Linked DNA regions of Homo sapiens: all the other regions are reported to be linked to region 6. The links are microRNA targets in miRTarBase. Many come from high-throughput screens and were not tested one by one. Region 6 holds a microRNA gene; each other region holds the end of a gene's coding sequence.
The links. The annotated mature microRNA hsa-miR-5006-3p reads UUUCCCUUUCCAUCCUGGCAG and lies in region 6 at 1,412-1,432, opposite strand. An mRNA with a match to its seed (bases 2 to 7 or 8) in the 3' UTR can be bound and repressed. Matches are read on the target gene's strand: a 7mer-m8 pairs with bases 2 to 8, a 7mer-A1 pairs with bases 2 to 7 and ends in A, and an 8mer does both.

Region 1: the mRNA of TMEM156 is a reported target of hsa-miR-5006-3p. The part of its 3' UTR that is shown has no 7-base or 8-base seed match.
Region 2: miRTarBase lists CDH4 as a target of hsa-miR-5006-3p. The part of its 3' UTR that is shown has no 7-base or 8-base seed match.
Region 3: the mRNA of ARAP2 is a reported target of hsa-miR-5006-3p. Seed matches in the 3' UTR shown: 7mer-A1 at 892-898 and 7mer-m8 at 902-908.
Region 4: miRTarBase lists SLC5A12 as a target of hsa-miR-5006-3p. Seed matches in the 3' UTR shown: 7mer-A1 at 1,861-1,867 and 7mer-A1 at 2,096-2,102.
Region 5: the mRNA of SYT6 is a reported target of hsa-miR-5006-3p. Seed matches in the 3' UTR shown: 8mer at 2,330-2,337.
Region 7: miRTarBase lists SKA2 as a target of hsa-miR-5006-3p. Seed matches in the 3' UTR shown: 7mer-A1 at 1,397-1,403.

What each region holds. Positions count from the first base shown.
Region 1 is chr4:38,968,259-38,971,258 of GRCh38, reverse strand. TMEM156 (transmembrane protein 156) reads left to right here. Exons shown (of 7, transcript NM_024943.3): 6 at 122-227. The coding sequence ends at 189. Among named protein-coding and RNA genes, the nearest start is that of TMEM156, 63 kb to the left of the region's middle.
Region 2 is chr20:61,936,584-61,939,728 of GRCh38, reverse strand. It overlaps CDH4 (cadherin 4), which reads right to left. Exons shown (of 16, transcript NM_001794.5): 16 at 1-2,992. The coding sequence ends at 2,786. Among named protein-coding and RNA genes, the nearest start is that of MIR1257, 16 kb to the left of the region's middle.
Region 3 is chr4:36,065,348-36,068,347 of GRCh38, reverse strand. It overlaps ARAP2 (ArfGAP with RhoGAP domain, ankyrin repeat and PH domain 2), which reads left to right. Exons shown (of 33, transcript NM_015230.4): 33 at 70-2,344. The coding sequence ends at 441. It also overlaps the pseudogene LOC651644. Among named protein-coding and RNA genes, the nearest start is that of ARAP2, 180 kb to the left of the region's middle.
Region 4 is chr11:26,668,208-26,671,352 of GRCh38, reverse strand. It overlaps SLC5A12 (solute carrier family 5 member 12), which reads left to right. Exons shown (of 15, transcript NM_178498.4): 15 at 102-3,145. The coding sequence ends at 251. Among named protein-coding and RNA genes, the nearest start is that of SLC5A12, 52 kb to the left of the region's middle.
Region 5 is chr1:114,090,946-114,094,090 of GRCh38, reverse strand. SYT6 (synaptotagmin 6) reads left to right here. Exons shown (of 8, transcript NM_001253772.2): 7 at 288-356; 8 at 2,009-3,145. The coding sequence ends at 305. Among named protein-coding and RNA genes, the nearest start is that of SYT6, 61 kb to the left of the region's middle. RefSeq lists an enhancer at 1,719-2,220.
Region 6 is chr13:41,566,895-41,570,010 of GRCh38, forward strand. It overlaps MIR5006 (microRNA 5006), which reads right to left and starts at 1,501; the gene lies at 1,392-1,501. It overlaps VWA8 (von Willebrand factor A domain containing 8), which reads right to left. Exons shown (of 45, transcript NM_015058.2): 45 at 1-1,411. The coding sequence ends at 1,303.
Region 7 is chr17:59,109,627-59,112,626 of GRCh38, reverse strand. SKA2 (spindle and kinetochore associated complex subunit 2) reads left to right here. Exons shown (of 4, transcript NM_182620.4): 4 at 282-2,770. The coding sequence ends at 350. The region is part of intron 1 of LOC124904039 (a long non-coding RNA gene); the gene reads right to left. Among named protein-coding and RNA genes, the nearest start is that of TRIM37, 4.2 kb to the right of the region's middle.

The DNA of each region.
Region 1 (3,000 bases), not on the chromosome of region 6:
TCCCAAAATCCTTTCTAGAGGTAGAGCATGCTTCTCTTGCTACTCTTACTACATTAGAATAAGCCTGTCTCTTTTTGCTATTTACTACATATAGACTAAAACAGTTCTCCTTCTTAAATAGCAGAGACCACGCAGAGGCTGCCTTTGGATCAAGTCCAGGAAGTGCTTCCCCCAATTCCAGAACTATAAGTTACTTCCACAGTGCATCAGTGAGATCAATATACACGGTGAGTGATGATTCGGCTTTATCGACTTCTTCATTATAAACACAGATAAATTCAAGGATGCACAGTTGATCCCAAACTCCATTTCTATCTGGTAGGAGGTAGAAAATGATGAATTTGCAAAGTCAGTTCATATGAATTAGATGACATGAAATAAAATGACTATTTTCTCTAAGATCTAGGAAGGATCAGTAGATGGATCTCTTAGTCTGTTAAACTAATCTGTTAGTCTTTTAAACTGCTCCTGAGATGATAGCTTATCCCTTGGCCCTGTTTTTCCGGAGTTGAGCCATAACTTAGTTAGACTATGAGAAAATAGAGAATGAGATGTGTAAAGCAAACTGCCTCCTCCACAATTATTGAAATAAAAACTTCTCTAAATGTAACATCTGATAATCTAAATTAATGCATATTGATTTCCATGAATTTAAGTCTAAAAGTATGGTCAAAAGTGTTGAAATTTTTTTTTATTCATTCATCAAATCTTTCTTAAGTAGCAATTATGTTAAAGGCACTAGGAATAGCCATTGTAGGGGGTATAAAAATTATAACAGGGAAGGGGAGGGAAACTAGCATTTATAAGCATCCCACTTATTGTGCTTTGTGGTAATTGGTTATATCATTTACTCTTCAGAATACGTGGGTGGTTTTTCAGTCAAGGTCCTATCAGGAAATTGATATTGCACTCAAATTGAATAATTTGAGATTAGTTTAATGAAGGGCATATTAAACTAGGGTGTGGGAAAACTAAAAGGGAGAATGCAGCACCCTGAGACTAGGAAGAGTGGGGCCCTGCTACTGTCTTTAAGACTAAAGGGGAAAGAAACCCAGAGAGACAGAGACAGAGACAGACATGCATGCATGTATACACACACACACACACACACAAACACACACACACAGTGTGTGAGGAGGGCTGTCCTACAGGAGCTGTGACATTTGGTCAAGGGACACTATAGCCTGGGGTCACCCTGAAAAGAGAGAATAACTATCCTAACTTTGGGAACTCTTTTACACTGTTGGTAGGAAGAGTATAGCCACTACAGAAAACAGTAGGATATTTCTCAAAAAACTTAAAATAGAACTACTCTTCCATTCAGCAATCCCGCTACTGGGTATCTACCCAAAGGAAAATAAATCACCTCAGGGTGTGGTGGCTCACATCTGTAATCCCAGCACTTTGGGAGGCTGAGGTGGGCAGGTTGCTGGAGCTCAGGGGTTCGAGACCAGCCTGAGCAACATGGTGAAACCCTGTCTCTACAAAAAATACAAAAATTAGCCAGGCGTGGTGACACGTGTCTGAAATCCCAGCTACTGGGGAGGCTGAGGCAGGAAGATCACTTGAGCCTGGGAAGTTGAGGCTGCAGTGAGCTGTGTTCATGCCATGCCACTGCGCTCTAGCTTGGGAGACAAAATGAGACCATGTCTTAAAAAACAAAAAAAGAAAGAAACGGAAAAAGAAAATAAATCACTATAGCAAAGGGATACCTATACTCACATGTTTATTGTAGCACTATTCACAATAGCAAAGATATGGAATGGACCTAAGTGCCCATCAACAGGTGAATGGATAAACAAATGTGGTGCATATATACAATGAAATATTTGCCATAAAAAATGAAATCGTGCCATATGCAGCAACTTGGATGGGACTGGAGGTCATTATCTCAAGTGAAGTAAGCCACGGACAAAAAGGCAAATATCACATGTTCTCCACTTGTAGGTGAGAGCTAAAAAAGTTGATCACATGGAAGTAGAGTGGAAAGATAGAGAACAGAGACTGGGAAAGGTAAGTTGTGGGGAGAGGATGAAGGGAAATGGATTAAAGTGAAGGGAAATGGGTTAAAGGGTACAAATGTACAGTCAGATAGAAGGAATACATTGAATGTGTGAAAGCACAGTAGCGTGACTATAATTACACAAAAATGTATTGTACTTGGGCGACAGATATCCTAAGTATTCTGACTTGATCACTAATCACTATGCATTATATACATAGAACAAAAGTTAACAGGTACCCCATAAATTTGTACAAACAAACCCCAACTTTGCCATCATCTCTTCCTCTAATGTGCTAGTACTCCCCCATTGACCAAACCCAGCCAGAGCCAGAGGGCACTGGAGCCCAGCGGAGGCAGTTATGTAAGTTGGCCTCCCAGGGCACCAAGTAGGGTGGAAACGAGTGGAGGGCAGATTGGGAGAGGCAGCCAAAGGGATCCAGCGTCGATGGCTCAATACGCCAAATTGAAACTTAGTGCCAAGAATCTGTCTGTGTTCAAGGTTAAAGAGAGGCAGGTCTTAGTACTTTGGGTCTCAGTGCAACCAGGGTCTGCTGTTGGCTCAGAAATTCCTAAGTAGCATATAGTGTAGTCATATGATTGTGTCAATGAAATATTACTGGATATTATTATGCTCGAGACCTCTCATTCTGGTTGTTCATTCTGGGATGCTTATCTTTGCATCTGAAGAGTTCCTCTTTCTTTGTTCATTCACCAAATGATTTTTGACCACCTACTGTATGTTGAGAATCCTACTCATTGGCAAAAACAACAATGTAGTCAATGGAGGAGTCAGATTAGAGAAGCCCTAATTCCAATAAAGACTCAAGTAACATGATAAAGGTGTTCACATGTGAAGAGAGGGACTTGGGGAGCACGATAGAGAGACTCCTCCTTCAGAGGACATGATGCCTAGCGTTTAGATGTTCAATAAGGATTTGTTGAGTAAATGAATAAATCCCAATTTCTATGTCTCTGTGTTAGAATCATGGAATGTT
Region 2 (3,145 bases), not on the chromosome of region 6:
TAAAGGAACCAAACCATGCCCTCGCACCTGGCCAGCATTGGCCTCCCGGCCTCCAGTGGGAGTCCCCTGATTATAGGCAGTCGTATCTACAAGCTTAAGGAAGAGAGACGTTCGACACTGATTGTATGCTTAGCTAACGCTAACTCAAGTTCAGAGGTGGAGCTGGGAAGGTGCAGGAACCCCATCTTTCTCTGGCCCCCAGGGGCTCACCAGGGTGGGGGTAGAGGGGAAGCTGTCCAGCTGTTTGGAGCAGGGATGGGCACAGGAAGCCCTATGAACATCCCTCCAGCTGGCACTGCAGCTTCCGCCTGCGTGATTTGGGCAAAAGGAACGGGGGCTTGGCAGTGACAAGAGGCTGTGGGCGAGGAGGGGGAGCTAGTGGGAGGCGGCCAATGTCGCCCAGCCCTCCTGGGTAGCGGCGGCTGCTGGCGGGACTGGGGTCTCCTGGTGCTGGGTCCTGGGAACATCAGCCCGGAGTTCAGGGAACCCAAGGAGGCCTCGAAATTTCAGAGAAAGGAGTTCATGCTGCCCTGGCTCCCGGGCCATAGTCACACTTCGAACAATCCACGCATACTCCGAAGGACTGAAGCATGGACTTCCCCAAACAACAACAGAGATTTCCAGTCCTTCCACTACCCGCCCAGCTATACCTCCAACGGCCATGCCCCCCCACACAGGAGCATTCTTGTTTGCATAGCACAGCTCAGAACTCGGGGACCCCGGTGCGGCCTGGCCAGCTGCCCCTTGACCTCTGTTGGTCCATCTCCTGGACTGGCTGTCTGCAGAGGGGGGCACCCAGCACGTGGCACAGTGAACCCCGCCCTCCCTGGGCAGCCATGGGAGGGTCAGAAAGGACAGGTTGGAGACTGAGACCCCAGCTCAACTCTGAAGGCTGCACAGGGGCAGCTGTGAGTTTGGTTTGGACAAGGACCCTGACATCCAACGGGAACATGCCGTGAGCCTGGCACAGATGTGTGCACTCAAGGCCAAAGCTGTTCAGAAAAGGCATGACCTTAGCCATGGGGAAGGGCCATAGGCTGAGGTGGGGGCCGGGGCCCCTGGTGGAGCTCATGCTGCCCCCAAAGGCACCCCGAGACACTCCCTGACCCCAGTGGCAGGTGCAGGGTGGGGCTCCGGGAGGGCTCCCTGTCCTTCCCCAGTGCTGGCACCGCCCTGCCCGACACCAGGTCCTGCCCAGGGTCCCTGGTACCTCACCTCCTTCCTCGGGAAGCCAGTTGTCACTGGCCTGGGAGAGACAGAAAGCTGACCAAGCACGAGGCTTCCCCACGTGGGGCCTGCCCCCTGCCGCAGCCCAAGGCGCCCAGACACAGCCATGCCAGAGGGAGAATGCACCCTCTGAGTTTTCTCATGCAGTGAGCACAGGCAGCCGAGCGCTGTCCCAGGGGTGCCGGGACACAGACCCTCTCACTGTCCTGCAGAACCAATTCCTTCCCCCTGTCTGGCTTGAGTCAACCCAGCCCTGGAGATAGCAGTGCCAGCCTCGAGGACAGCAGCAAGTTTGGACCCGGCCGCTGCCTGCCCCCGACGAGGGTCCATAGGAGAGGAGAGGCACCGTCTGCAGCGTGCAGAGGCATCTGTGCGACAGGTAGGCACGGCAAGACGGGGCCTCCTGCCACCCACACAGGCTCACAAGCGTCTGGCGGGAATCAGGAGCACAGGCTGGGGACGGGGAGGCTTCGCAGGCTGCTGGGTGTGTTCTGGTCACCACGCCCAACCGTAACTGCCCTCTTCAGCTGCCAGGGAGGGTCCTTGGTTCCTGCCATCTGCACAGCCCTCCGGATGGTTGGAGCTGTCGAGAGTGTCCTGGGGTTTGAATTGATGCCTGTCGCGGGGCCGTTGATGGCACCCCATGGGGTCTGGTCGCCAGGGTTGGAGGGCTGGAGCCAGATGCTGGCTGGTTTGGACAACTCACTCTTCTGGACCAAAGGCAGAGGGGACCTGGTGGCACTCAGGGTGACAGGTGTCCCTGAGGGAGGCCTGGGTTGACTGGGGGTGGAGCCCCTTCAGGATGACCCCTGTTCCCCTCCAGGCCCCTGCCTGAGCTCCTCACAGCATCCGGGAGGGGTGGGGAGCAGCCACAAGGTAGGGGTATTCTGAGCCCCACCAGCCCCAGGGCCTTCTGCTGGGGCTGAAGGGCTAAGCCTCCCAGCTGGCCTTGACTCCCAAGAGGCTCAAGAGACCCCCAGCTGTGTACAGCAAAGGCTGCTGGGATTTGAACCCCACTCTGTTTTCAAACAAGTCACCCACTTTCTTTTTCTTAATAAAAGACCAAAAAAAAAGTAAGAAAGACAGACACAGTCTCCCCCATTTCTGAATGATGCCTTCAGAGCTGGGACTAGCTGGGGTTGGAGGCCGCTCGGGATGGGAAGGTGGGGACGGTCTGTCTGCTTTAGACACTCCTGAGTTTGAGGGAATCTGATACATGTACCAAAAGGCACTTTCTTTTTTTTTTTTTTTTCTTTCTTTCTTCTTTTTTTTTTTTTTTTTTTAAAAACAGTGCTTCTGTTCTAGGAAATTCAAGTGAAGACAGAGTGCCTCTTGCTGTCCTTCAGTGCCAGCCAGCGCGGTGCTGGGCAGCGGCCGGGTGCAGGGCGCTGTGGGGGTGGGTGCTCATGCTAGACAGCTCAACGTGGGGATTGGGGGGCCTCCTAACAGCACTAAGGACACAGCCGCAGGGAGTCGGGAAGACCGGCCGCCTCTGCTCAGTCCTGCTCCTCCGGCGTCCGAGCACGGCTCTCACTTCGGTCCGAAGATGCGAGGTCAGTCAATCCTCTTCACCACCTCCATACATGTCCGCCAGCTTCTTGAATCTGGGCCCCCAGTCGTTGAGGTAATCGTAGTCTTGGTCCCCGGAACTGGATGAGTTCAGGGAGCTGACGGAGCCTGCGGTGGAGCCGCTCCCCTCGTAGTCGAAGACCAGCAGGGAGTCATAGGGGGGTGCCGTGGGGTCGTTGTCAGCAGCGCGGAGTCCCTGGGGGTCACAGACACAGAGTTAGGGTGCAGGACGCGTTGTCTCAGCCCCGGGATCAGATGGAACGGAAAGCGAGGCCCAGAAGAAGAGGTAGGGAGGTAGGACGTTGCATAAAGTAGGTGTCCAATAAGGGCTCTCTGCATTTAACTGAAG
Region 3 (3,000 bases), not on the chromosome of region 6:
GATTGCACTTTCTAAACCTAAATTGTGCCAAATCTTGCTTCCCTGTGAGACATTTAATTTTATTTTTAGAGTGCAAGAGCAGAACTTGAAAGGCTGCGGCTCAGTGAAAAGTGTGATAAAGAGTCCGTGGACTCTAGCTTAAAGGAGAGAGCTTCCATGGTGGCCCACTGCCTGGAGCACAAGGACGATAAACTTCGAAATCGACCCCGAAAACATCGGAGTTTCAACTGCCTGGAGGACACAGAGCCTGAAGCCCCACTTGGGCAACCAAAAGGCCATAAAGGCCTAAAGACATTGAGGAAGACTGAGGACAGGAATAGCAAAGCTACTTTGGACTCTGATCATAAGTTACCATCAAGGGTAATTGAAGAACTTAATGTGGTTCTACAACGGTCAAGAACCCTTCCAAAAGAATTACAGGATGAGCAGATTTTGAAGTAGGAAATAAAATGAATTGCTCCCCAGATTATTTTTTTAATATTGTATGCAATCTTTATGTGTAACTCCAAAACTGAACTATAAGATAATTCATAAGAATTTGCCTATTGATAGGCAAATTTGTCTATGCTTAGGCATTTAAGGAGCATTTAAAAATATGTATATATGTGACTGAATGTAAGATTAACTTTATTTTGGTCTGAACAAACCTTGTAAAGTTCCATTGTATTAACGTGTGTAAGAAGACATTGGGTTACTTAGGTGGTCAGTCCTTTTAAAGTAGTTGTCTGTTAAGTGGTATAATTTATGAGCAGAAATCTCAAACTGTACTGTATTGTATAAAATGCTGTGTTTAAATGAAGCCTAAGAAACTATCTGTAACATATTTTGCACTTTGAGAAACCTTGTATATTAAATTACCATATGTTTTTAGGTTTACAGAAGTTCTACCTTAGGGAAAAGAAAGGGAAGTAAATTGAAAAAGGGGGGAGAATTTATTGTAGTGGCTGCCTAAAAACCACTGGAGTTTTTAAAAGAAGCAAGGAGTTAAATGTCCTGCAAAACAAGGAAGTGAGCTAAGATTCATTCTAGTTCACTAATGACCAGAACTTGTCAATGAGAAACCACTTGTTAAGAAAAAGTCCAGTGTTTATTTCTCAAGAGTAATATTCGGCCAACAGATGTAAATAATAGCACTAGCCACTCTTATTAATATTTATAGTGTTAGAAAACCAGCCACATTACAGATTCACTACGTTTGAGCTCATTGTTGGTGGCTGCTAAGAGGAAACTTACACTGCATTGGAGAGGTTGTGTACACAGGACCTGGCCTGGATGCTGATTGCACTGTCATTGTATGCAAGCATTTTGTCTTTTTTCAGAATTTCTGACTATACTTTTGGTACGAACAAAATTCATCACCACAGGGTCCTGTTGTTTTGTTTGATTTTTAGATTTTTTTAAATTATTATTAAGGTTGTAATGTTTTTCTCCGAGTTGTCAGAAATAACTGGAAGAATACAATATATGGCCATTATGGAGCCAGGGGCTAGTTGGTGGTTTACTATACATTTGGGGGCTACCTGGTCACATTTAATCTAGGTTTTTTTTTCTTTTTTTAAGTAAAGGTGTGGTCTCTTCCCTGTACTTATGAATAAGGACAAAGCCCTATTTTTGTTTCCACATAAAGATCAGCTACTGAATTGGTGAATTTCCTGACAGACAATGCTATCTAACCATAGTTCATGTTAGGGGAAGCATTTTTCCATCAGTTTCTTTAAAATTGGATTGTCTGGTGAGTTTTGATATTAAACATTATGTAGCTAAGTTTTTTTTTTTTAGCATTTCTTTTTTATTTTTCAATCTATATTCACAGGCCCATACTTCAGTCAGTCCAATCATAGTACAGTGATGTGGTGGTAGATGCTATGAATTTCTTCATTGTAAAATACGGATCATTTGTATTTTGGGGTGATAAAATAGTTCACCATGGGTATGAGATATTTATTCTTTAAATCAAAGTAAATTAGAATTTTTAAAAAGCACAAAACTGCAGGACAGTTTATGAAATAGGTGGCACTATTAGGGAATCTTCCTTTAAAGCAAGAAATCATGTTATTTAGAAAGAAAAACTAATCTTAAACATACTATTTCTAATAAATATTTATATTTTTATGAAATAAAGAGGTATGTGGAAATTAATATTTGGTGATGTTGGACAGTGGAAAAGTATCTAGAGTTTTTACCTGCCTTATCTGAATTCTTCTTGAAACTTGAGCTTAAACTCTAATAGCTGTTTCCCTTTCTATTCTGAACAACTGTCTCCATTTTTCAAGTGTGAGAGATAAGGGCTAATGATGACATCTCATTTATTTTGAGTAAACATTAAAATTGTTTTACAAGTCTACTTGAATGTGACTTTATTATTTTCAGAAGTTGAAGGTTGTTATTGTGAAATAGATCAAATAGATTAGCTTTCTTTTCTTTTTAAAAAAATTTGAATTTAATATATACTTCAAACTGGCTGTATTGTTTTTCCAAACAGGTCACTGTAAGTAGCTTTATTTATTTAAAGACCCACTTGCTGAGAACCAGGCACAATTACAGGCTCTGTGGCCTGTATTGACGAGAAGCTGCTGACCAGCCACATCCCTACAAGATGCATAGTACCACCCCTGGTTTATAGGCATCTCTGCCAGCCTTGCCACACCATGAGAAGGCCAAGGGACTGGCACAAGTGTCTGGCACCTCAGCAGTGCCACTTGGTCATTCATGAGCAGTCCCTCATGTTCAGGAACAGTGCCTGTCACCCAGGCCACTTCAGCTGCATCCACTGTAGGAAGGAGCTGACTGGTGAGGCCCATGAGCTGAAGGGTGAACTCTACTGCCTGCCCTGCATTGACAAGATGCTGTCCCCATTTCTAGGGACTGCAGCCAGCCCATCAAAGGCCACATAGTGAATACACTGGGCAAAGAGTGGTGGCATGCAGAGCTCTTTTCCCTGAGTGTGAGAAGCCATTCCTGGGGCCCTGGCACTATGAGAAGAAGGGCCTGGCCTACTTT
Region 4 (3,145 bases), not on the chromosome of region 6:
TATATAATTTTTTGAAGCCAAGGCCTAAACAAGATTCTCTCAGGTTAATTTGGAGTACATCAAGGATATCTTGCTAATATGTGTCTTTGTATTTCCCTCAGGAAAACCTTGAGAATGGCAGTGCCCGGAAACAGGGGGCTGAATCTGTCTTACAGAACGGACTCAGAAGAGAAAGCCTGGTACATGTTCCAGGCTATGATCCTAAGGACAAAAGCTACAACAATATGGCATTTGAGACTACCCATTTCTAAGGCAATACCTGTATGAATGCACACACACACGTGCAATACACACACACACACACAAACTCCACATACTTCTTGCCTACTTGTTAGTAGATATGTATAGTTGCCATTGCTAGAAGACAGGGATGTCTGGTGCCTATTTCTACTTATTTATAACTACATGCAAAATGACTGTCTCTCGGGATATTCTTTGAAAGACTCCAACTTTCACAGAGAAAAACCAACCTGCTCCAAATGCCCTTGACTACTTCCTTCTTGAATAAATTAGGGCTGGATTTCATTACCATTCAAGAAAGCGAAGTCTTTTTGCTTGGTGTCATATTAAACTTCAGGTTTTTCGTTTTAGTAGTTTTTTAACCATCAAAATATCTTGGAGTTTAGAGGCAGAACGGGAAACAGAAATATGCATATTTAACACTTTCCTGCCACGAGGGATAAAATAGAGGAATGACATCCACCCCTGACCTCATACCTGACATACATGTAGATATATTTTATGCCACCCATCTCCCATCCTGTAGCTACAATTGGCATACAACTACTATTAACCTCCCTTCACCACCACTGTCAGGTCCTCTTCCAGTCATTCCAGTCATTAGCTGTCCTGACCAAACATTAAAAAAAAAATTCAGCTAAATACAGAAGAAGATGGTATGTCTGGCTAGTGGGAGTGATTATAACTAAAAACTTTGCTCCTTTTGTGCTGTCCATGCAGTATGTCTTCTTCCTTTCTATCACTTTACAATGAAAAATTGCCTCAGAGCTCAATAAGAAGTCTAGAGCCTTTTTCCAGGGCTAAGGAAAGAGAAAAGGAATGTCCTATAGAAGGTTGTTAGGATAGAATTTGGTAAAAGAACGTTGCAAATATTGTAACAGACCATAGGAGATTTCATCAGCAATAGGATTCTTCTTTGGAGAAAATACATTGTCCATAAGACTTGTACTCTGCTCATTCAACTCATGTGAGCAAGCTCAACTCACTCCACCTGGGTTAGGTAACAGAAGTGGAGAACTTCATAGTTCGTGTCTAGAAAATAATGTTTAAAGTTCTGGAGAATGAGGGTATTGCAGATTAAAAGGCGAGTTGACAAATGAAGGAGCAGTGAAAGATTTTTGGAAGAAGTGAAGAAGTGAAATTCTGAAAAGGTAAAAGAAAGAACCAGTATGTCACAGGGGCCAAGTCAGAGGACAGATAATAAGAAACAAAGTTGTATCTGAGAGTCATATATTAGGACAGGTGTCAGATATTTATTTTGGTGGCCAGATAAAAGCAAAAGGCCTAGAAACAGTGTGTTAGCAAAGTAAGAAGAAATGGTCCAAATAGGCAAGGATAAGGAAATCCAAAGGTTGTCTTTAAATATTTCTCAAAAGAGAAAGCCTTGAAAGAAGCATACAATAGAGAAAAAATAAATTACCAGTATTTATTATTAGAAAAGATAGAAAGACAGACAAATCAGTGGAGGAATTAAAACAGAGAAACTGGAGTTTATAAAACAGAGCCCAATCCTTGCCTTCTCTCCCTCCACTCAAATAGAAAAGGAGAATGGAGAAAGAGAAAGAAGGTATTAGGCTACAGTTTATAAGAGAGATGAGAAAAAAATACATTTGGGAATAGAGGGAAAGGGTCAAAAGGGGTCACATTTGGAGAAATATCTGAAAATGAGAAGGAGCAGAATTTTTGGAAACATTTTTTAAAGTCTGGCAACGCTAATTAAGCTGTTGATCTAAGGATTTGCAAATTGAGAGGTGCAATTATTTTCCAAATGATTTGTGACACTCTTATTAATTAGAATATATATTTTGTGAATATTGAAATCTGAGCCAAAACTAGTTAGCTTTATTAATATCTTAGGGAAAGAAGAGAGAAAGAAAGAGGGAGGGAGAGAGAGAAAGAAAGAAAGAAAGAAAGAAAGAAAGAAAAGAAGAAAGAAAGAAAGAAAAAGACAGGAAGAGGAAGAGAGAGACAGAAAGAATAAAAAAACAGCAATTCTGAGGATGAGAATAAATTAATGGTAGGTATTACATATGCATATACATATATATATCTGTACACATATATATGTAAATATGATTTGGAATACATCAGGATTGTGAACTTCCACTTGGGATAGCATAAAAGCAAAATATACCATACAATTTTTCATTTTACTCACAAATTTTACTCACAAATTCTCCTAAAGACATTTCACTAGGTCAGTACATTTCCGAGAAAGTTTTAAAAACGTTTCTTCTTTTATAGTCCCTAATTATCTTACCTGGAGTGTTATCAAAATGTCATACAACTGGAAAATGCAATTATTATTATAAAAATATCTCTGCCTTCTCTTGTGTAATGAAATTTATGGCATTAGGAGATGACATTTCAAGAGATTTTAGAGGTCAATGTAGAGACTCCCCCCATTCTTCTTAATTGAACAAACATGCATAAATCTAGGGTTTCAGGTAGAGAGCAGATGGGAATCTACAGGAAACTGTCTTCCATAGTGTATGAAAACCGTGTTTGTTGTGTGGTGAAGCAAAAGGAAACTATGAAGCGCACAGTCAATAGATTCAGCTAGTGAGTCCCAGCACTCCTTTCAGGCCCTCACTAGGATTAGCAGCCCAGAGTCATGCCAAGGCCACTGGTGCAGTACAAAGACAGTTCAGTGACAAGTTCCATCCATACCATGGAAGAGGGTTAAACTTGTGGCTGTTTTTGCCACAGCATGACCAGAGACATTCTCAATAAATGGCACTAGGAATGATGAGTTTTAGAGGGGCCTAAAATGTTCCAAACTTGATACTCACCACTGTACCTTTAAAGCACAACCACAGATATTGGTAAAAATGGAACAGAATTACCTCAATACCTCTTTAACTCATTCTGTATGAATTCATTTTGATGACAGACATTTTTTGTC
Region 5 (3,145 bases), not on the chromosome of region 6:
AGGAAGAAAGACACTCTGTGTAGTCCTTTTATGTTTTCTCCTCTGACCTGGCCTATCAGTCAGGTTGTTTAAGTGGCATGCTTACTCAGGGAAGAAGCCAGTGATTATAATGTACCTTTCACCAACAGTAAAGGTTGTAACAGAAAAGTAGAACTCCTAAAATGAAGGTCTGTTAAATAAGAGCATTAGTAATCATGTGTTGTCACCTTCTGGTTAAGAAACACTTGAGTCAGAAGCCACAGTGGCCTCAACAACCAGGCATTTATTTATCTAAAATATTTCACCAGGGAAACCCTCGGTTGTGATTTCATTCACGTGGATGCTGCAAGCAGAGAGACTGCCACCTGGAGTTAGGAGTAAGTACCTGGTGTGGACCCAAAGACGTTAGGTTGCTTATTACCTTTTGTCTCCTTCTTCCCCTAGTGTGGCCAGATGCTGAGATAGCAGCAGGATGGAGTGGAAAGAACACTTGGTTGGGTGTTAGGAGACCTGGTTTCGGGTTCTGGCTCTGCCCCTAGCTAGCTGTGTCTTGACTTCTCTGTCTTTGTTTTCTTATTTGCGAGAACAAGAAGGTTAGACTGGATCAGCTTCCAAGCCTGCCTCCAGTGCTGACATGCTAAGATTGCTTAGGTCTAGGTCACATAATGGTGGTCATCGGTACCTGATTGTCTGGCCTTTGGTTAGTCATAAAGATCTTCAGCTGGCCTGAACAGGGAGTCCTAAGAAGCCCATGAAGAACCGAGCCCAGAGAAGGGTAACAGAAGCTTTCCTTAGAATTGAAAGCATTAAGGTAGTTTAGTAGGTCTGGGTCCTTCCTGAACTTCATGGGTTTCCCATCTACTCCGCAGGTGATGCTGGATAGAAAGTGATCTATTCCTCAGGTGGCTCGGCCCTTCTAGGAATGGCTGTATTGAGGGAGAACCACATCCTCCCCCGACCCCAAACCTCCATGTATGCATGATGCATAGTAGCAGCTTCTACTCAGCCCCCTCACTCCATAGTGGAGACCCTCAACGCTCATGAGAAGCAGAAGGGGCTGCACTTCCAGGTCAGGAAGGCCATCTTGACCACCTACCTACCTCTTAACTCTGGAGCTCTGTCCTGCAGACACCCAGGACAGTACTGGGTCTCTTCAGCCCACTCCAAGGATGGGTGAGCAGTGGACACTGACTCACTTTGAAGTTATTAACATAAAGCCCCCAGGCAGGTCAAGAATATTCATGGGGTCAGATCTTTGCTCAGTAAATATTGCTGGGGTTATGACTGCTGCAGCGATGACTGGTTAAAGAAGGATTGAATGGTTCAAGTCCACCCAGCCTCAGCCCTGTCCTTCACTCCATTACGCCTCATTACATCACCCCTTTCACAGAAGGGTTAGAGTCAGGCTGATAGGAGGCAGTCTGTGACCTAGGAGAACTGGGGAGGAGAAAGGGGTTGCAGAAGCCCAGAAGGGTCTGCTCACACCTCTACCTCTCCACAAGTCAGGTGCAAATGCCCATAGGAAGAATGAAAAACAAAGGAGACAGCTCAAAGCTAAAGCAGTATCAGATTTTTAGCTGTACTGTCAGCTCCCAGACAAATTGCTAATAATGCATGACCATGGGTTCTTGGCAGTAAGGACATATTCTGCACACTGCCTCTTTCGCTGCTAACATAATATGATTTTCAGTGTGAAAAATGGCTGAAGCACACAGAAATGGCCCAGTCAGAGCACCTCATTCTCACACACACACACACACACACACACACACAGAGAGAGAGAGAGAGAGAGAGAGAGAGTTAAGAAAGCTTTAATTATCTCTGCAGTAGGTCTTTTTGAAAATCAGGTATTCCAAACTAGAAGCTCTAAGCTGTTTCCCTTATGTTTTTGCATGGCTGACAGCAAAATTCAAGAAAGCTTATGAGAAGCTAGGAAAGGTGAATTCAGTGCATTGGGCCAGTTCAGTTTTGCAAGTTGAAATGTAAATTCCTTTAGCAATTAATAAACAGATTGTTCTCCTCTTTGCAGTGGCAGGGCCGAGCTGCTAGCTTCGACAGTGAGAGCTCGTGCCCATCTCCGAAACCACCTCCAACACCATGAGATGTGCAGCCAAATAACACAAATGGGACTCAGCAATGTTCTCTTTGCACTTGTTCAACCGTCTAAACAGTGTTGTGCAGTCGCAGTGGCGGCAGCAGCGGCAGCCGTCCGTCACTCCAGAGTCTTACCTGCTCCTGTGTAGGTCAAAGCTGAGACACTTGTCATGTGGTCAGATCTGTCTTAGTCTTTTGTGTCTCCCAAGGTGATGTTTTTGTGGTTTTTCACTTTTTATGGGTCTGCTGGTAAGAAAAGGGAAAAAAAAAAAGAGTAGGAAAAGACAAAGGGTGGAAAGCCCAGAAGTTGGTTCTAGAAAATACAAGGTACAGTTTTTTGGAAAGAGGTGGATTGAGTTTCTGAAATGCTGCGTCTCCAGCAAGCTCCACAACCCTGGAAAAGGAGGAGGCGTGGTGGGACTGCGGCTGCATTTTCAGTGCCCTGCAGGAATGGGGTGAATCCATGGAAGAGCCTTTGTGAGGTGAATTACTAGTCTTTGAAGCTCTTCGCTGGCAGGACATAAACCACGCTGGGACCCTCAGTCCCGTGTTGAAATCACAAGACCTCTGAGGCGCTTGTGAGCCTTCAGCTGATGTGCAGGGTTCCTCGCTCCCCTTCCTCGCTGGCTTTCCCCATGAATTGAAAACGTCTTGATTCCTCATGGGAACTTAGTCACTTTCTTTAGGAATGATTCAGTTCAGCCGAAACTAAACACGCCATATGTTTTCTGATGCGCCACAGTTAATGATCACATTTGTTTGAAAACAGGATCTTTGTCCTCAGAAATAATCTTGATTGTAAAGTAAGAGAGAAACATATGTTCTGGAATGATTTCTGCATTATACATAGCTTTATAATTCCATGAAGTATCAAGCTGCTGTTTAAAATGCCTAAACAGATTAAAGAAAAACCTAGATTAAATGTTCTTTTCCAAATGGGGAGTTTTGAAATCCAAATAGCAGTTTGAGTCCATCTTTCTATGAAGAGTATGTTTTTGATTGAAACCGAGTCAGCGTAAGCCTATTTCAGCCCCTTTGGCTCTTTGACAATATTCATCTTAAACTTTAGTTC
Region 6 (3,116 bases):
AGAACAAATGGGTATTATCTTTTCTTCTTTCCTATAATTAATTAAAATGAAATTATGGACCTGTACAATTTCAATAGATATGGATGGATAGGATAATATTATTAATAATAGTTTTTCCAACTTAAGACCAGTTTTTTCAACTCACTGGTGCCCTAACGTTTCTGATTTTGCTATCAATCGTGAAGAGGAGTTTTTAAATTATATGGTTAAAGAGAGAATGACTTTTGCTGAAGCATCTTATTTTAAACAAAGTAATATTGAGCTTATTGATAAAATAAAGGTCAGCCCAAGAGTGTGTGGGAATAAGGTACATTTTGAAAGAAAAGAGAATGAGGCTTTAAAAAAAGTTGTTTTCTTTCTTTTTGTTACAGCTAAAAATTTCCAATCACCATTCACTTCAAATATACCACCTTGATTTTACTTTTTTTACTTTGCTTTAGGTAATTTTTATATGAATATTCTCAATAAATAATTTTCGTGTAAGCATTTATTATTTTGAGCATTACAGTTTGGACCCCAAAATGGAGTACTGTGAATTTTTTGAGAGATGCTAGAAGAACAGAAGAAACAGTAAACTTTTAAGGCAAGACATCTTTCTCCTCCCACTCTAGCAGCAAGGAGAAGAGGACATTTGCTCTTTAAGAGCCTTTTAAAAGTCACGTGGAAAGGCAAGCACTCCAAGGATTTTTTGATTCCTTTTGGCTTTGGCCAAGAAAATGAAATTATTGAGAACAGCCAGACTTTCATAAGATATTGCTGTTGGAGGGACTTTTTGGTGGGTTAAATATTATAAAATCATTGTTTTCTGGTCAATACAGAGCAGGGAGAAAATAAAAATAATTGTTGGATAGGAGCATTTTGGTGGGTTTTGCACAGACTTGCATCTTGTGTCAGAATGTGACATCAAAGGCTCAGTTTGATGGGGTCACTTTTCTAACGTGACCAGATGATGTGTTAAGGCAAAAGCAAAGTATTTTCTCCCCCTCAGGTTTTTGGAAATAGACCAAACACATAGTTCTCAAAACCACCTTCCTTTAACCCCAACCTTTGATAAAGTGCAGGTCAACTAGCTTGCCCTAATCACTTCTAAACTCATCAGTGGAGTATCTTTCCATGTTTAAGTCTCCTTCTGGCTGCTTCTCTGAATTCTCATTACGGAGCAAGTGTAGGAAGACCCAGGAATGCCGGAATCATCCAGTCACTGCATGGGTTCACTTCATCCATATCTTCTTTTTTTCAGAATACTCTTTATTCCTGTCTTATTTCAAATCCTGGTGTCATCAGGGTGATGAAGGGCACTTCTTAGACACTCGACAACATGGTGGAGGTGAAGATCTGTTGTAAAATCTGAGGGATATCCTTGGTATCCATGGCAACGAAAGACCGACCAGCTGGTAAAGTTCTCTGAAGCCTGCCAGGATGGAAAGGGAAAGGAAGTTACCACTGTAAATGGGGCTCCCTTCCACCTCCTGCCCTGGCAAACCACAGCCCCCTAATGGTTTCTTAGGAAAGGAAGTTTTTACTTTCTAATACCTTGCTCTCTGCCTACCATTGAATTAGTCGTCATTAAACAATGAAAGGCTTGGAAGAGCAACAAGGAAAGACACAGCAAAAGCAGGGAACTGAAAGAAAGGTCTTTTCAGTGAGAAAGTCAGTGAATTTGAAAAGAAAAAATTTTCTTCCTTTCTTTACTGCCATTTCTTGGTATTTCATATTCTTTTGGTATAACAGAGCCATAGGGATTCATATGGAATCAGCTCACCTCCCGGGTCTAGCAAATATGTTGACCTTACACTGTATTTCGAAGTGCTTTTCCTTCCTTAGAAAACAGGCCTCTAAAAACGCTGCGCAGCCAAACCCTGAGTGGTTCTTTCTCTCTTTCTTTGCCTCTCTCTCTTTTTTTTGGTCCACATCACACAATGTGAAATGCGATCTGGATTGTCCAATTACTGCTTCAATGACACTGAGGTTATACAGGCTTATGAAATTTTTTCCAACTCATTTTTAAGTGAATTTTAAAAAACTTATAATGGGTTTTGATTTGAATTATCCTTAAAAATAACATGTCATTGAAGTTACGATACTTTTTTAAATACTAATTTATAATTTGGAACAAAAGGCCATTTTGAAGGCAACAAAACTGTAAGACACAGTTCTCTTCAAAAGAACGCCTCCTTTCACTGTGCCAGTGAAGTCTGGCTTTGGAATGACATTTAATAAAATTCAACCATCCTGTGTAGTATCGTATATTTGGCATGCCTGGTAAGCCAGCTAATTCTGCAACATATCTTTTGCCAGTGGATGTTGGACCATTTCCCTAGGAAACCACAAGGGTATTATTGTGCTTTCTTAAGTATTCAAACAGGATCTGTTCACTAGAAAGACAAAATAGCCATTTCATCTCAACTAGTATTTGTTGAGCTTGTTGTCTGCCTAATACTGGGCTGATGCTGAGGAAAACCTGGGTGGAAAAGGCATAGTTTGTGTTTGAGGATGTGGAGGTTCTAAAAGATGCAAAGTGCTAACTTGTAAAAACTAAGAAGAATGAAAAGTCATGTCATAAAATGACTGTAACTACATGATATTAAGTCTGTTCTCAACCTCGCTCTGCAACCTTACAGCAAGGCAAAGGGAATAGAAAGAGAAAAAGCTGCTAGCATTTTGGATATTAAAACATTTCCAGTCACAGAGTATGAAAAGTAAAAGGGGTGGAATAACAAAAACGTAGGCCCTTTGTGCTTTAGGCAGGGATTTTTTTTTTTTTTTTTAAGATTACTTTCACTGGTGTTTTATGTTTCTTACAGGTATTTTAAACACAGAAAAACCATGAGCTCTTTCTGTTTGTAATTCAAAAAGATAAATGTTATTGTGTTCAAGTTATGAAAGTGTTTCCAGATCTCTCCTTTCAGATCATACCCACTGGTATTTATTGTCTGATCATAAGATTCTCTATTGAATATTTAGTATATTCAGTGTAGTATCTAACTATATGTATATTATCTTATGTTGTCGCCAAGTGTTTCACCTGCCTTGTCTCTCCAGCAATAAGAAGGGATACATGTGAGTGTGTCTATATATATATACAGGCATGCATATATGTAGGTGATGTCTCTATG
Region 7 (3,000 bases), not on the chromosome of region 6:
CCAAACATGACTTCTTTGGTTCTGCTATAATCCTTAAATTGTTTGATTTCTTGGTCTTGTTTCTTCAACTTAATTGCAAGTTCTTTAGAAGCTCAAACATCATAGGACCTTGTATATAAATAGCCAAGTATCTGTTTTTTCCCTTGCCTTTCTAAATCTGTGATTACATACATAGTATAAGCTTAGGGAAACATTTATTGGTGTGACAATGCAGAAGTTAACTAAACTGATTTAAGTCTTTGAAAGTTTTTGAAATAAAGATTTTATCATTTATTTTCTAGCTGTCACCACTGACTAAAGAAGAGAAAACTGCGGCAGAGCAATTCAAATTTCACATGCCAGATTTATGAAGAAATGGACTTGGAAAGGAAATTCTAACAGAGAAGAGCTTAATTCCGGAGAAATTTAGGAAGATGTCTTGTTAACCCTTGATGTCTAGAGATTGGGGGCTGGTGAAGGGGGTTTGGCTTCAATGACTGGATAATGATATCTTTCATGAGAGAGATTATAAGAAGAAGGGCAGATAATATATGAATAAAGTTCAGCCAAAAGGATCAAATGAGAATAAAACGATTTAAATATATGTACACACGCATGCACACACACACTTAGTCTTGTAATTTCAGGCCAGAAATTCTCAACACTATTTTGCATCTGTTTTCTTTTTCTAAGTCATGATAATATAGATGTTCTGGTCTATCATAAAAGAATGTTTATGTACATTTCAGTCATTCGGTATGTGGCTTTGTAAATTAAAGTATAGGCAAAACATTTGTGTTATACATGATATATAATTTCATTTTGTAAATGTTGATTGCACATGTGGTCACATTATTGTTGAGACTGCTTTTATGTGACCTGTAGTCTCCCACAGAACCTAAAGTAATAAGCTGGCTTTTCTGTGATAGCCACGTTTGCGTATTTCTTTCCCTATTTCCCTTGCCTGCTAATGTTGAACAGCATGAACTTGCTTTCTGATGCTGTTTTAGACTGTCCCTGTTGTATCTCAATAATATCTTTGTTTTCCTTCAGCCTTTATTACTATAATTGTTCATTCTACATGAAAGCTAGGAAACTGAAATTAGAAGAGCACTTATCTGCTACTTGCCAGTTTTGCGTGAGTGTGTTATATGTATGTGTCAATTTCCCTTTAAAATAACTATTTATTTTAAAATAACTATTGGCAATAAGGAAACTGTTCAAAGTAGAGGCAGATCTTGATAGAAAGATGTTAATCACAGGGTTGTTTATAATAGCAATATACATACACATTTGGCTAGTACTAGGTGAATAGGAAAATAAATCATGCTGTATGTATACAATAAGAGGTCAAGTTGCCAATAAATTATTACTGTTAATGTTCTGGGAAATGCTGAAACTATGCTAAGTGGGGGAGAGGGAAAGCAGGTATTGCAGTTTTGTAGTGAAGATTGGGCTTTGGAGTCATATCTGAGATGTAAGTAGCAGCTTTTAAATTCTAGCTATGACCCTGTGCAGATCACTTAACTTTTGAGTGTCAGGATGTTTGGAAGGACAAGACAGGAAAGTGTTTTAATACAGGGTTCAGTATTTAGTAAGCCTTCAATAAGTGATATTACATACATGTAATAAAAACTAAGCATTGAAAGGACTAGGAAAAATGCATCAAATGTTAGTTCTGCAGGTTATAGAATTATACTTTTATGTAATTTTAAAATTTCAGTTATGAACATGTTTGTCCATTAACAAACTTATAATAGCTGAAAAACAGGGTTGTGAGAACAGCTTCAGTTAAAATTGTCCTGTCTAGTTTGAATATTTCAAGAACAGAAAGCCTTTTTTTTTTTTTTTTTTTTTTTGAGACGGAGTCTCACTCTGTTGCCCAGGCTGGAATGCAGTGGTACGCTCTCAGCTCACTGCAACCTCCACCTCCCAGGTTCAAGCAGTTCTCTGCCCCACCCTCCCGAGTAGCTGGGATTACAGGCGCCCGCCACCACGCCCGGCTATTTTTTTGTATTTTTAGTAGAGATGGGGCTTCACCATCTTGACCAGGCTGGTCTTTAACTCCTGATGGTGATCCACCCACCTCGGCCTCCCAAAGTGCTGGGATTACAGGCATGAGCTACCGTGCCTGGCCCCCTTTTTTTTAATTACAGAGAAATAAGTTACACCTTAGTATCAGATATTAATTTTCTTCAGTGTTCAGGCAATTAGTATTTAGAAAGCTCTTGTCATGAGATGGCTCTGGGATGTGATGATGATTGTTGGGATTGAAAAAACGGTAGTATCATGGAGAGATCATAATAAATTCTTAGTATTAAAAGTGGTTTTGCTTTCAGTTAGGGAGAAAAATTAGATTGTACTATTTTTCCTCTATGATTTCCTTCAGTTATCTTCCAAATGTTGTTTTTTCCCCACAGCCCCCTTAACATTGTTCTCTATGCACTTCTCAATACATTTTCATTTGTTTCTCAAGCCTCTTTGTGGATGACTCCTAAATATAACTTCTTCCACTAGCTCTAGATCCGTATTTCCAATAAAATCCCCTACCTGAATATTCAAGTTAAACATGTCCAGAATACTTACTGATTTTATTGTTAATAGCCACTATTCTGTTGTCTGGAATTAAAACCTGTATAACTAATTTGCATCCCTTTATCTTCTTAGTCAATAAAACCTACAATCCTCTTTCTAAAATGGTCATAGTATACAACCTCTACATTATCTTCACACCTCCTTAATTTAGATCTTTTGTTTCTCATTTGGATTATAATTGTTTTCTCCTATGTGACTATAGTGTCTTTATGTCTTAAGTTATAAATAATACATGTTTAAGAATTTAAAAATCACAGGCATGGCCGGGCATGGTGGCTCACGCCTGTAATCCCAGCACTTTGGGAGGTCGAGTCGGGCAGATCACAAGGTCAAAAGATGGAGACCATCCTGGCCAACATGGTGAAACCCTGTCTCTACTAAAATTACAAAAATTAGCTGGGTGTGGTGGCACGTGCCTGTAGTCCC